Homo sapiens: one gene and its partners. The protein of the gene in region 3 interacts with the protein of the main gene of each other region in a biochemical or structural test. Each region holds a gene or a part of one and is shown on either strand. Other genes may lie near its edges.

Region 1 (3,096 bases), on a different chromosome or scaffold from region 3:
TTGTCAGCTGATGGCCCCGTGACCAAGCATCACTTCATCTTGTGGAGTCTCAGTTTTGTCTGTCCATAAATGGAACCAATACCTGCTTTTTCTCCCTTTCAATGTTGTGAGAATCCACTGGAATGTTTTATGTGGAAATATTTTTGCAAAACATTTAAGATTTTAAATATTTACTATTCAGTATTTAATAAATATTGAAAACATCTTTGCAACAAGTATCCATTTGTACCTACTTGAGGAAACCTACACACCGCTGAGGCAGTGGCAGCTCTGGGAGTGTTCACCAGGGAGAAGCTGCTGAGAGCAGCTGAGCAGGGAGGGCCTCGTGGAGTCTCTGGGGCTTGACTGGGGGTCAGGGGGCTGGCTGTGGACAGGTGGACCGAGAGGCAGAGGGAGCCCTGCCTGGGGGCTCTCCCTCCAGCCCATAGTGTCGGTGGCAGGGTGAGGGTGGCCGACAGCCCTGATGGGACTCCTTTCCATCTGGGAGCATGACTACTTCCAGCCTTGCTGAGTCTGTGTAGGAACTGGCAGAAGCTTCCTCTTGCTTAGAGGATGGAAGAAGATCAGGGTGGGTGTTTTGCGCCCACTGTGTCAGGAGGAGAGAAGTGAGCGGGGGTGTTTCACTACCTTGCCTGGGCTTTAAATGGGGAGGGGCGGGGAGAAGCTGGCAATGGACCCTCACTTGACGGGCCCTTCTGTGAGCTGGGGGCTTTGGCTTTCATGGCATGGTCCCCCGCACTTGGTATAAAGCGCAAGGCTCCTGTGGGTCCTAGGACTCAGTGCTGCTAATCAGATGTTCTTAATTAGAATCTGATTTTGTGTAATTTTCAGTAAGAATTTTAGACATTTCAGTTTATCTTCTAGACTCAGTTTTTCTCTCAGTTAACATTTTAGCTTTGAATCTGCTTTTGTGAGTTTTGTTAGGGGAAGCTTGTTGAACCGTAAGGGCTGTAGTGAGCATACAGCAATGCCTCTTCCATGCGTGCTGAGCTGCAGTGAGGGGACGGACAAGAGCCAAGGTGTGACCAGGTGATGTCGCTAGTGTCAGGGAACACTCATGCCAGTGAGGATCTTCCCACTCTCTGATGAAAACTAACAGGCTCCCCTCTCTCTCGCTGTGCCTGTTGTGACAACCATGACAGCTGGAGATGGAGGACGAGGACACCATCGACGTGTTCCAGCAGCAGACGGGAGGTGTGCCGGAGAGCAGCCTGGCAGGGCACAGTTTCTAGAGGGCCCGTCCCCAGCCCGGGCCGTCCATCCTCGCATTGCTGTTGAATGGTGAGCACGTGACCATGCCGACCACAAAGGTGTCTGCGGAAACTCGAGGACATTCACCACGATGATTTTCCTCTCTTTGATGTACTTCAAGTGCAACTCAAAACTATATCTGCAGGGATGAATCTGTAACTTAAATTGGGCCAATCAGAATTGTTATCTTTGTTCAGGTAAAATGAGTTGCAAGATATTGTGGGTACTTTTGTGTGCTCATTTGTGTTTTCCCCCCCTCCTACAACATTTTTTTAACCCCAAAATTATAGCCTGAATGTTCGCTTTTAGTCTGGCCAGGGATCTGACTCCTGAGTTGGTTGCCTCTCCCCTGCTCACTCCAGTCACATAGAGAATTGGTGTTTCCCGCAGTGGGGATGCAGCTGTTGGACAGGTATTGGGGGCAAGGTTGGTAGGGAGGACAGACTGTCACTTGCTGTTACAGGCACAGGTGATTAAAATGCTAAATATTGCAAATTTAAGCTTTGTCAGTATATGGAAAAGTTGAAGGGAAAATACTGGAATGCTTCTTCAAAGGTTAAAAAATAACCGAGTCTTTTGGTAATTTGACCCCACGTGCTCTCTGGCCCTCAAGCATGTAACCTCGGGGTCTGAGGCCCAGGACCCACCCCCCTGCCACCCCTCCCACCCCACTCCCTGCTCAGTACCTGGCGTTGGTACACAGGCAAGGATTGGCACAACCAAAATTGGCCTTTTTCTCCCTCTTAATATTGAAGAAATTCCCACATTTCTCATTTGGTAATGGTGTTGTGGCCTCAGATTTCTTCTAGTATTTGCTTCTGATGAATGATTATGGTCTATACATAAAAAAGTAAGACTAAGTATTGCTGAATTTGCAGTTATGTTGTCGTGTATAAGAGCTACTTCCAAGTGTGGTTACAAATGAACCCATGGAATGATGACTTCATGTTCTTCTCGTGGGTTTGTGCCGTGCTGCTTTCCAAATAGGTATTGAATTTATGCATTAGTCTGGTGATTTCAGTTCTGTGAAATATTTTGGGATCTATACCAATTAAACATTTTCATAGTTCTGCCTATTGTCCTTCCCTGAGGCTCCATTGCTGCTTGGTGGCCATTCTCTGCCTTTTTACAGTCACCTGAACAATGACCCATCATCTCTTGCTTGCTTGAAATCTTGCTGAAATGTTCTCATTTCCTGTTTGCTGTATGGGCTCGGGTGGGATGTTTGTTGGCTCTGTTGTGTTTATTCACCAATTTGTACATTATTTGTTGTCCTTTACTACTGTAAACAGTAAATATAGTTTGGTATTCTGTCTCTTGGCTTCTACTAAACACTGCATTTGAAGGTTGGGGCATACTGGTACAATTCAGTGTTTGAATTGACCATTCCAGGCAGCCACTGCACTGAGAAACTTTGATTGAAAAGCTAGCCGCTGGAAGGTTAGTATTCGCCTGGCAGCTCATTTCCCCTCCCCTGGCACATCACCAATGCTAGTCCAGCCTTCTTCCTGCTGAGGGATGCATCCTCTCCTCAGAGACCTCCTGGCTGACAGCTGTCTGAGCTGGCATCACTGTGACATGTTACCCTCCCTCTCCTGGGTTTCGTATGTAAAGAAAGGGTGGATTTTAGAGGCAGGTGAGCTTGGGTGTTAGTCTAGGACATCTCTCGTTTTCTGGTGTTTGAATGTAAGTCAGCTTTCCTTCTGCCATGGACAACTTACCTATCTGCTTTGAAACTGAACTGACATTGATTTGGCTTTAAGAATTTCCCAGTGTGCAGTGGTGTAACAAAACCCAGGTTGAAAATGAGCTGTTTTAGCCCATCAGTTGAATGAACCCAAGGTG
Region 2 (3,650 bases), 2.3 Mb from region 3:
CTCCAGAGTCCTTTGCAGGGAGAGGCTGTGAGATCCAGGCTGGAGCTCCTGGGCTAGGAGTGCCTGGACCCTCAGTGATTGTTGGCGATGAAGACAGGATTTGGTGCCCACAAGACCCCAGCCCTGGATGGGATGGACGTGCAGAAGCGCCACCACTCCGAGTCTCACTGGAGGGTTTATCTTGCCCCACCTCACTGCTCTTCCTGTGGGCTCTCGCAGTCTCTCCCACCCGGGGCTGCGTCTGCAGCCGGGCAGGCATAGAGCAGGGGAGCAGCAGAGAAGGCGCGAGAAGAAAGGGCTGAGGCCAGGTTCGACTTTGAGCCTACAGCTAAGTTAGTGATCTCAGTCAGTTCAGCAAAACTCAGGAGAGGGAGGAGAGGGCCGCCACGTCCCTGCCGTCCCATAGCTGGAAATCGGCAGGCCCTTTCTGTGGTGAGTTCCACGCATTAACACGTGCCCAGCACCTAGACAGCGCCTGGCCACGGTGAGGCGAGAGTGCTGTGTAAAAGCTTCCACTGCAATTGTCACTCAAGACACACAAGTGTTTTCCACAGTGGCAGTGACCAGAGGAGCTTGAGGACTGCTGACAGCACCAGCTGGTCGAGACTTGCTTCATTTTTGGATTGTCCTTTGCTGTTTGATTTTTTTTTTAAACCATGAGCAGGTATTACTTAAGATGACTTATTTTAATTAAGAAAAATATAAGAATGAGACACAGTAGCTGCTTTCATTGATTCTGTTCAACCGTTGATTGGAATTCCAAGCAAATGCAGCAAGACAAGAAAAAGAAGTCACAACGGAAGAGGTGGGGAGGAAGGCCAGGACAACAGCTCAGTAAAGCTGAGGTGCAAGGCTGGGCACGGTGGCTCACACCTGGAATCCCAGCACTTTTGGAGGCCGAGGTGGGAGGATCACCTGAGGTGAAGACCAGCCTGGACAACATGGTGAAACCCTGTCTCTACTAAAAAAAACAAACAAACAAACAAAAATTAGCGGGTGTGGTGGTGGGTGCCTTTAATCCCAGCTGCTCGGGAGGCTGAGGCAGGAGAAGTGCTTGAATCCAGGAGGCGGGTCCAGTGAGCCGAGATCGCGCCACTACACTCCAGCCTGGGCAGCAGGGCAAGACCCTGTCTCAAAAAAAAAAAAAGAAAAGAAAAGTAGCACAGGACCTGGTAAAGGAAACAAAGCTAAATAATAAATATAAAAATGAAGTCGAGATTGAGGTACACAAATCTGCTTTTATATCATTTCAGCGAGCAAGGTTTTAAAACTGCCATTTATAGTAGCATGAAATACGTTGGAATAAATGCAATAAAAGATTGGTTCAGGACCTCTGTACCGAAAACTGTAGAATATTGCAAGGGAAACCAAGGCCGGCCTGAGCGGTAGCTGAGCTCTGCCGTGTGTGTGGAGGGGAACACACGACATTGTACAGACAGCCCTTCTCTCCAGGCTCGTCTGCAGATTCCATGTGATCCCAGTTGGAGTCAAGCACATCTTGTTGGAAACTGTCCCATGGACCCAGGAAATGCAGAAACGTGGAGGCCTTGGCTTCTTGGTGGGGTGGCGAGACCCAGGCTGAGGCTCCGTGGGTGCAGAGCACACCCACCCACCCCCCACTAGACCTGCCACGGGACACGGTGATGGAGACTGCAGGCTTGCTGAGAAGACAGGCAGGCAGACCCGCGGACAGAACGAGGAGTCCGGAGGCCACGCATGTGGTGGTTTGGGCTGTGACACCTGAGGGATATTCCAGCAGGAGAGACGAGCTCTGCCTCCCACCATAGAGAAACAGCTTCCAGATGGCTTGTGGTGCCCAAGCAGGACAGCGTGGAGAGGAAGACCCGGGATGGTGTCCGTGAGCCCTGGGCAGGCAGGGATCTCTTCACCAGGGATGCAGTGAAGTGCTGGCCGGAGGGAGATTGACGAGTTGACTAAGTTGAAATTAAGAATCTCTCTTTATCATAAAGACTGCAGTTGGCGCCGGGCAGGAGGGCACACTACAGTGTATGTACGTACCTCAGCCCTCACCCTGAATCTACCAAGAGCTCCTGGGAATCAGTAAGAAGGCTGCCATGACGTCCAGCGTGTCCCTCACAGGAAAGGCCTCCACCCAGCCAGCAAATGCGGCAGGGATGCCTGGCTTTGCCAAAGAGTGAAAGCCTCCCCAGTGGGATCTGCCGTAGCGCACAGGGGAGCAGACGGAGCCGCGGCGCAGGGCAGCGGGAGCCTCAGCCACCGCTGGAGAGAGCGGATGTTCTGAACGTTTCCCCTGGACGCTGCCTGCCACACCAGTGGAAGCTGAGCTCATGCTGTAGGACCTGGCTGTTCACTTGAGTCAGTCGAGATTCACAGAAGCACATACATGTGTCCACCAGAGGCACAGATGGGTGCCGGTGTCACCCCCACTTGCCCCAGCCCAGACGTCCTAGGATGACAGGTAGGGAAGAGTGAAGAGGCCACATGATGCCTGGCGGACAGTCCAGACAGGAGGGCACCCCCTTTGTGTTCCTTCTTTGAAGCGCGGGAGCGGCCAAGCCGGAGGCCATGAGGAAGTAGGAGGCAGCCTCTACCTTGGGAGGGACAGGTGGACCTGGCAGTGCTGGCATCCAGCATCTGTGCCTTTCTGCGGGTAAGTTGTGATCGGCAGAAGAAACGAGATTGAGAATCAGATTAAATTGAAATTAGGCAATTTTTGTTTTTGCCAAAAGATTCCCTTAGAAGAGGAAAAGGTCGGGCCGGGCGCGTTGGCTCACACCTGTGATCCCAGCACTTTGGGAGGCCAAGGCAAGTGAATCACTTAAGGTCAGGAGTTTGAGACCAGCCTGACCAACAGTGGAGGAACCCCGGTTCTAATAAAATAGAAAAATTGGCCAAGCTTGATGGCGGGTGCCTGTAACCTCAGCTACTCTGGAGGCCAAGGTGAGGCGGGAGAATCACTTGAGCCCGGGAGGTGAAGGCTGCAGTGAGCCGAGATCCAGCCTGGGCACCACAGTGAAACTCCATCTCAAAAAATTAAAAAAGCAAAAAGTCAAGCCCCAAGCAGAAGAGCCCTGTAAGACGTATCGCTTGAGGAACTTCTGCGAAGCAGTCGCCAGGAAGCAGCCTGGGCCGAAAGGGGCGCTCAGCGGTCACCAGCAGGCGCAGCGTAGCACCACGGAGTGGCTGCCGTGCACCTCACCCGGTGGCTGGAATCCGCCAGCGACGCAGCCTGCGTGAGCAGCCTGGAAGCAGCACGGCTTGAGGGCCAACACCGTCACCCCACATTCCACAGCAGCGCGCTCACGCGTGTTCGCACTCAGGACAGCCACGCAGCTGCTGGTGTCGCCCGTGTGCTCCTGCGGTGTGGGATGGTCGCGGTGTGGGACGGTCTGCGGTGGTGTCTTCGCGTTCCCCAGGGAGTGTGCCCTGTGCATCTCCATGGTACCTGAAGTCCAGGAAGCTGCCTGCGGATGTTGCAGTTGGGATTACGGGGCAGATGCAGTGGTCGGTAGGAGCGAGTGTTCGGGGAAGCTGTAGGTGTTCGTGGCGCGTTGGCTTTCTGGTAATTCCTCCGGCTGCACTAGACATGCCGCACTGTGTGTCCTTCCGTAGCATTGAGAGAGAAGAGGGAGGATGCCCAGGTAAAAGATGGGAAATAGCCTAGAATA
Region 3 (3,650 bases):
GCTTCAGCTCTCCCTCGGGCTGCTGGTTGCTGACTTTGGCGCCATGGTCAATAACCCACACCTGAGTGATGTCCAGTTTCAGACGGACAGCGGGGAGGTGCTTTACGCCCACAAGTTCGTGCTTTATGCCCGATGCCCGCTCCTCATCCAGTATGTAAGTACGTGGGCTGCCGTGTGCCCTCCTTTCCTCTCTCTCCCTCTCTCCTCCTGCCTTTCTCCAACCAGGTCTTCCCATGTCTCAGGTGCCCTTTCCACCCCCCCACTCTCCCTCACTTCCTGCCCCACCATGTTCTCACCTTCTCCCTCCCAACCATCCGTTTCTGCAACACGTGGAGAAGAGATAAAGACCCACGCTTGAGGTTAGGAGTGGGTGTGAGGGGATGGCCTCACAACTGGGAAACATCAGTGTTTTCGTTCTGTTGAATGAAAATCCATTGTTTGGCCGGGCGCGGTGGCTCACGCCTGTAATTCCAGCACTTTGGGAGGCCGAGGCGGGCAGATCACAAGGTCAGGAGATCAAGACCATCCTAACACAGTGAAACCAGTCTCTACTAAAAATACAAAAAAATTAGCCGGGCATGGTGGCGGGCGCCTGTAGTCCCAGCTACTCGGGAGGCTGAGGCAGGAGAATGGCATGAACCTGGGAGGCGGAGCTTCCAATGAGCTGAGATTGCACCACTGCACTCCAGCCTGGGCGACAGAGCAAGACTCTGTCTCAAAAACAAAACAAAACAAAAAGAAAATCCATTGTTTCCCAGAATTGTTTTCTCTTTTCTCTATTTGCATAATTACAAAGGCTCATAATTGATCTCCTCAGGGATGAGTTGCTGATGAACCTGCCTTCTGACTTGAAAGCATTTGACTTGAGTGTGGGCAGGAACTCAGGGAGCTATTCTCAGTCTTTGTCAAAGTTCTGGATCCCATATGTGTCTATCAGGAGGACTCTTAACGGGGTCCTGGAATATCTAGTCCCAATACGATTTGACAAAAGAGGAGTGTTAGGCCTCACCTGTAAAATTATTGGCCAAAAATCTGCATAAACAGTGGCTAATGCTTTTCCTGGGGCATGGAGCTGCTTTTAAGACTAGGGACCAGGCACGGCGGCTCATGCCTGAGATCCCCGTACTTTGGGAGACTAAGGTGGGAGGATCGCTTGAGGCCAGGAGTTCAAGACCAGCCTGAACAACACAGTGAGAGCCCATCTCTACAAAAAAATTTAAAAATTAGCCTAGGGGCTGGGCGCAGTGGCTCACGCCAGTAATCCCAGCACTTTGGGAGGCCGAGGAGGGTGGATCACCTGAGGTCAGGAGTTCCAAGACCAGCCTGGCCAACATAGTGAAACCTTATCTCTACTGAAACTATAAAAAATTAGCCGGGCATGGTGGTGGGCGGCTGCAATCCCAGCTACTCGGGAGGCTGAGGCAGGAGAATACGCTGGAACCGAGGAGGTGGAGGTTGCAGTGAGCCGAGATCTCACCACTGCACTCCAGCCTGGGCAACAGAGAGAGATTCCAACTCAAAATAATAAAATTAATTAAAATTTAAAATTAGCCTAGGAGTTCAAGGCTGCAGTAAGCCATGATCACACCACTGTACTCTAGCCTGGGTGACAAGGGGAGACACTGTCTCTAAAAAGAAAAATAAAAAGACTAGTGACTTGCAGGACACCCCAGACCGTCTGCTTTGCTCCAAGTTACAACTCTCTGATCAGTAAACCCTCTGTGTTGCATTTCACCTGCAGGTGAACAATGAAGGCTTCTCCGCTGTAGAGGACGGGGTTCTGACCCAGCGTGTCCTGCTGGGTGACGTGAGCACCGAGGCCGCCCGCACGTTCCTGCACTATCTCTACACTGCGGACACTGGCCTTCCTCCTGGCCTTAGCTCTGAGCTGAGCTCCCTGGCCCACAGGTCTGGATTGCTCCCCAGCTTTTGAAATTAACTGACGAGGACTGGCAGGTTAACAGCTCTGGAGGGTTGTGCTGCAGAGGGCTCGGGGCTGAGGCCAAGAGAACTAACAGTCCTGTTTATACCTTTTAATCCCAAGTCCATGACCAGTGATGACCCTGTGGAACAGGGCATGTTAGGTGAAAGTCAGGCCAGAACAGACCCTTGCAGGGGTGCCAAGCACTGGATCAGGAGGACTCTATTGAGTCCCGTGGTTTTTAACCCCCTAGGTGTGATAAGAGAATGGCCCTTGGCTACAGCGCCCCCCAACACTGCTGCTCAGTGATTGTTCCACCACTAGACCTGAACAACAGCAGTCCTTTCCAGAGTCCCATAAAACAGGCATGGAGAGAATGCTTAGGCTGCATCCCAGATGCCACAGCTCTCCTGGCTTGTCCAGCCAGCATCTTAGGAGAGAGGCAGCAGCTCAGAGGGACAAGTGTTGTGCCTCTGGACAGGGCCTGGGCCGCTGATCCGAGCCTGCGTCCTCCCTCCGCTGCTTTCTTAGGAAAGGAACAGCTCAGCCTCTGGAGTTGGAAATATACTGACGGGCCACAGAGCCTTCAAGCAGGTGGCTGGCTGGCTTGCCCGTTGGCCTGGGCTGACTCAAGGACTTGGTGTGCTGTGGATTGTGTCTGATGCCATGTCTTTTCATTTATTTTTTATTTTTTGGAGAGACGGAGTGTCGCTGTGTTGCCCAGGCTGTTCTTGAACTCCTGACCTCAAGCAATCCTCCTGCCTCCGCCTCCCAAAGTGCTGGGATTATGGGCATGAGCCACCATGCATGACCTTTTTTATCCTTTTAGAGACAGAGTCTCTTGCTGTTGCCCAGGCTGGATGGCAGTGGCATGATCACAGCTCACTGTAGCCTTGAACTCCTAGGCTAATTTTTACATTTTTTTGTAGAGATGGAGACTTTCTATGTTGTCCAGGCTGATCTCAAACTCCCGGCCTTGAGTGATCCTCGGCTTCCCAAAGTGCTGGAATTTCAGGCATGAGCCACAATGCCTGGCTCTGACACCATATCTTAAGAGCCTCTGAGGCAGCACAGACTCCCCAGTTTTGTAGCTCTGCCAATCCCTGTTACCTTACATTCAGTCCGACACACCCCTTTATGTCTGCAGCTATAGTTAGGAAGCCCTGCTTTAAGTGTTGTCAGTCCCCGGTTTCTGGAACTAAGTGGCCTGGGTGTTTCTGGCAAGGAGTGTGGACACCGTCTTCAAAGGGAAGCAGGGCCTGGGTCATGGTCATTCCTCCTGGTGAAGACTCTGCTCTGGTCCGCCACCCCACCGGGGCACCCAGAGCCCATCTCCACGCAGAGGGGCGATGACTGTCGATGTTTCGTGTTGCAGGTTTGGCGTGAGTGAGCTCGTTCACCTGTGCGAACAGGTGCCTATTGCCACTGACTCAGAGGGCAAACCATGGGAGGAGAAGGAAGCAGAGAATTGCGAAAGCAGGGCCGAGAATTTCCAGGAACTCTTGAGGTCAATGTGGGCAGATGAAGAGGAGGAAGCGGAGACTTTGTTGAAATCCAAGGACCACGAAGAAGATCAAGAAAACGTGAATGAAGCAGAAATGGAAGAAATTTATGAATTTGCAGCTACTCAGCGAAAGCTTCTCCAGGAAGAAAGGGCAGCGGGTGCCGGCGAGGACGCTGACTGGCTGGAGGGTGGCAGTCCGGTTTCTGGGCAACTCCTAGCAGGTGT

What was found.
Region 1: the proteins of SLX4 (region 3) and SUMO3 form a complex in vitro, tested with the Homo sapiens proteins (one study listed by BioGRID).
Region 2: the proteins of SLX4 (region 3) and UBE2I form a complex in vitro, tested with the Homo sapiens proteins (2 studies listed by BioGRID).

Annotation. Positions count from the first base shown.
Region 1 is NC_000021.9:44,805,087-44,808,182, reverse strand, and holds the end of SUMO3 (small ubiquitin-related modifier 3 isoform 1 precursor), read left to right. Parts: intron 1-1,142; coding exon 1,143-1,232; 3' UTR 1,233-2,566; downstream 2,567-3,096. UniProt on the Homo sapiens protein: Ubiquitin-like protein which can be covalently attached to target lysines either as a monomer or as a lysine-linked polymer. Does not seem to be involved in protein degradation and may function as an antagonist of ubiquitin in the degradation process.
Region 2 is NC_000016.10:1,315,992-1,319,641, forward strand, and holds part of UBE2I (SUMO-conjugating enzyme UBC9), read left to right. Parts: intron 1-3,650. UniProt on the Homo sapiens protein: Accepts the ubiquitin-like proteins SUMO1, SUMO2, SUMO3, SUMO4 and SUMO1P1/SUMO5 from the UBLE1A-UBLE1B E1 complex and catalyzes their covalent attachment to other proteins with the help of an E3 ligase such as RANBP2, CBX4 and ZNF451.
Region 3 is NC_000016.10:3,590,957-3,594,606, reverse strand, and holds part of SLX4 (structure-specific endonuclease subunit SLX4), read left to right. Parts: intron 1-7; coding exon 8-154; intron 155-1,741; coding exon 1,742-1,908; intron 1,909-3,296; coding exon 3,297-3,650. UniProt on the Homo sapiens protein: Regulatory subunit that interacts with and increases the activity of different structure-specific endonucleases.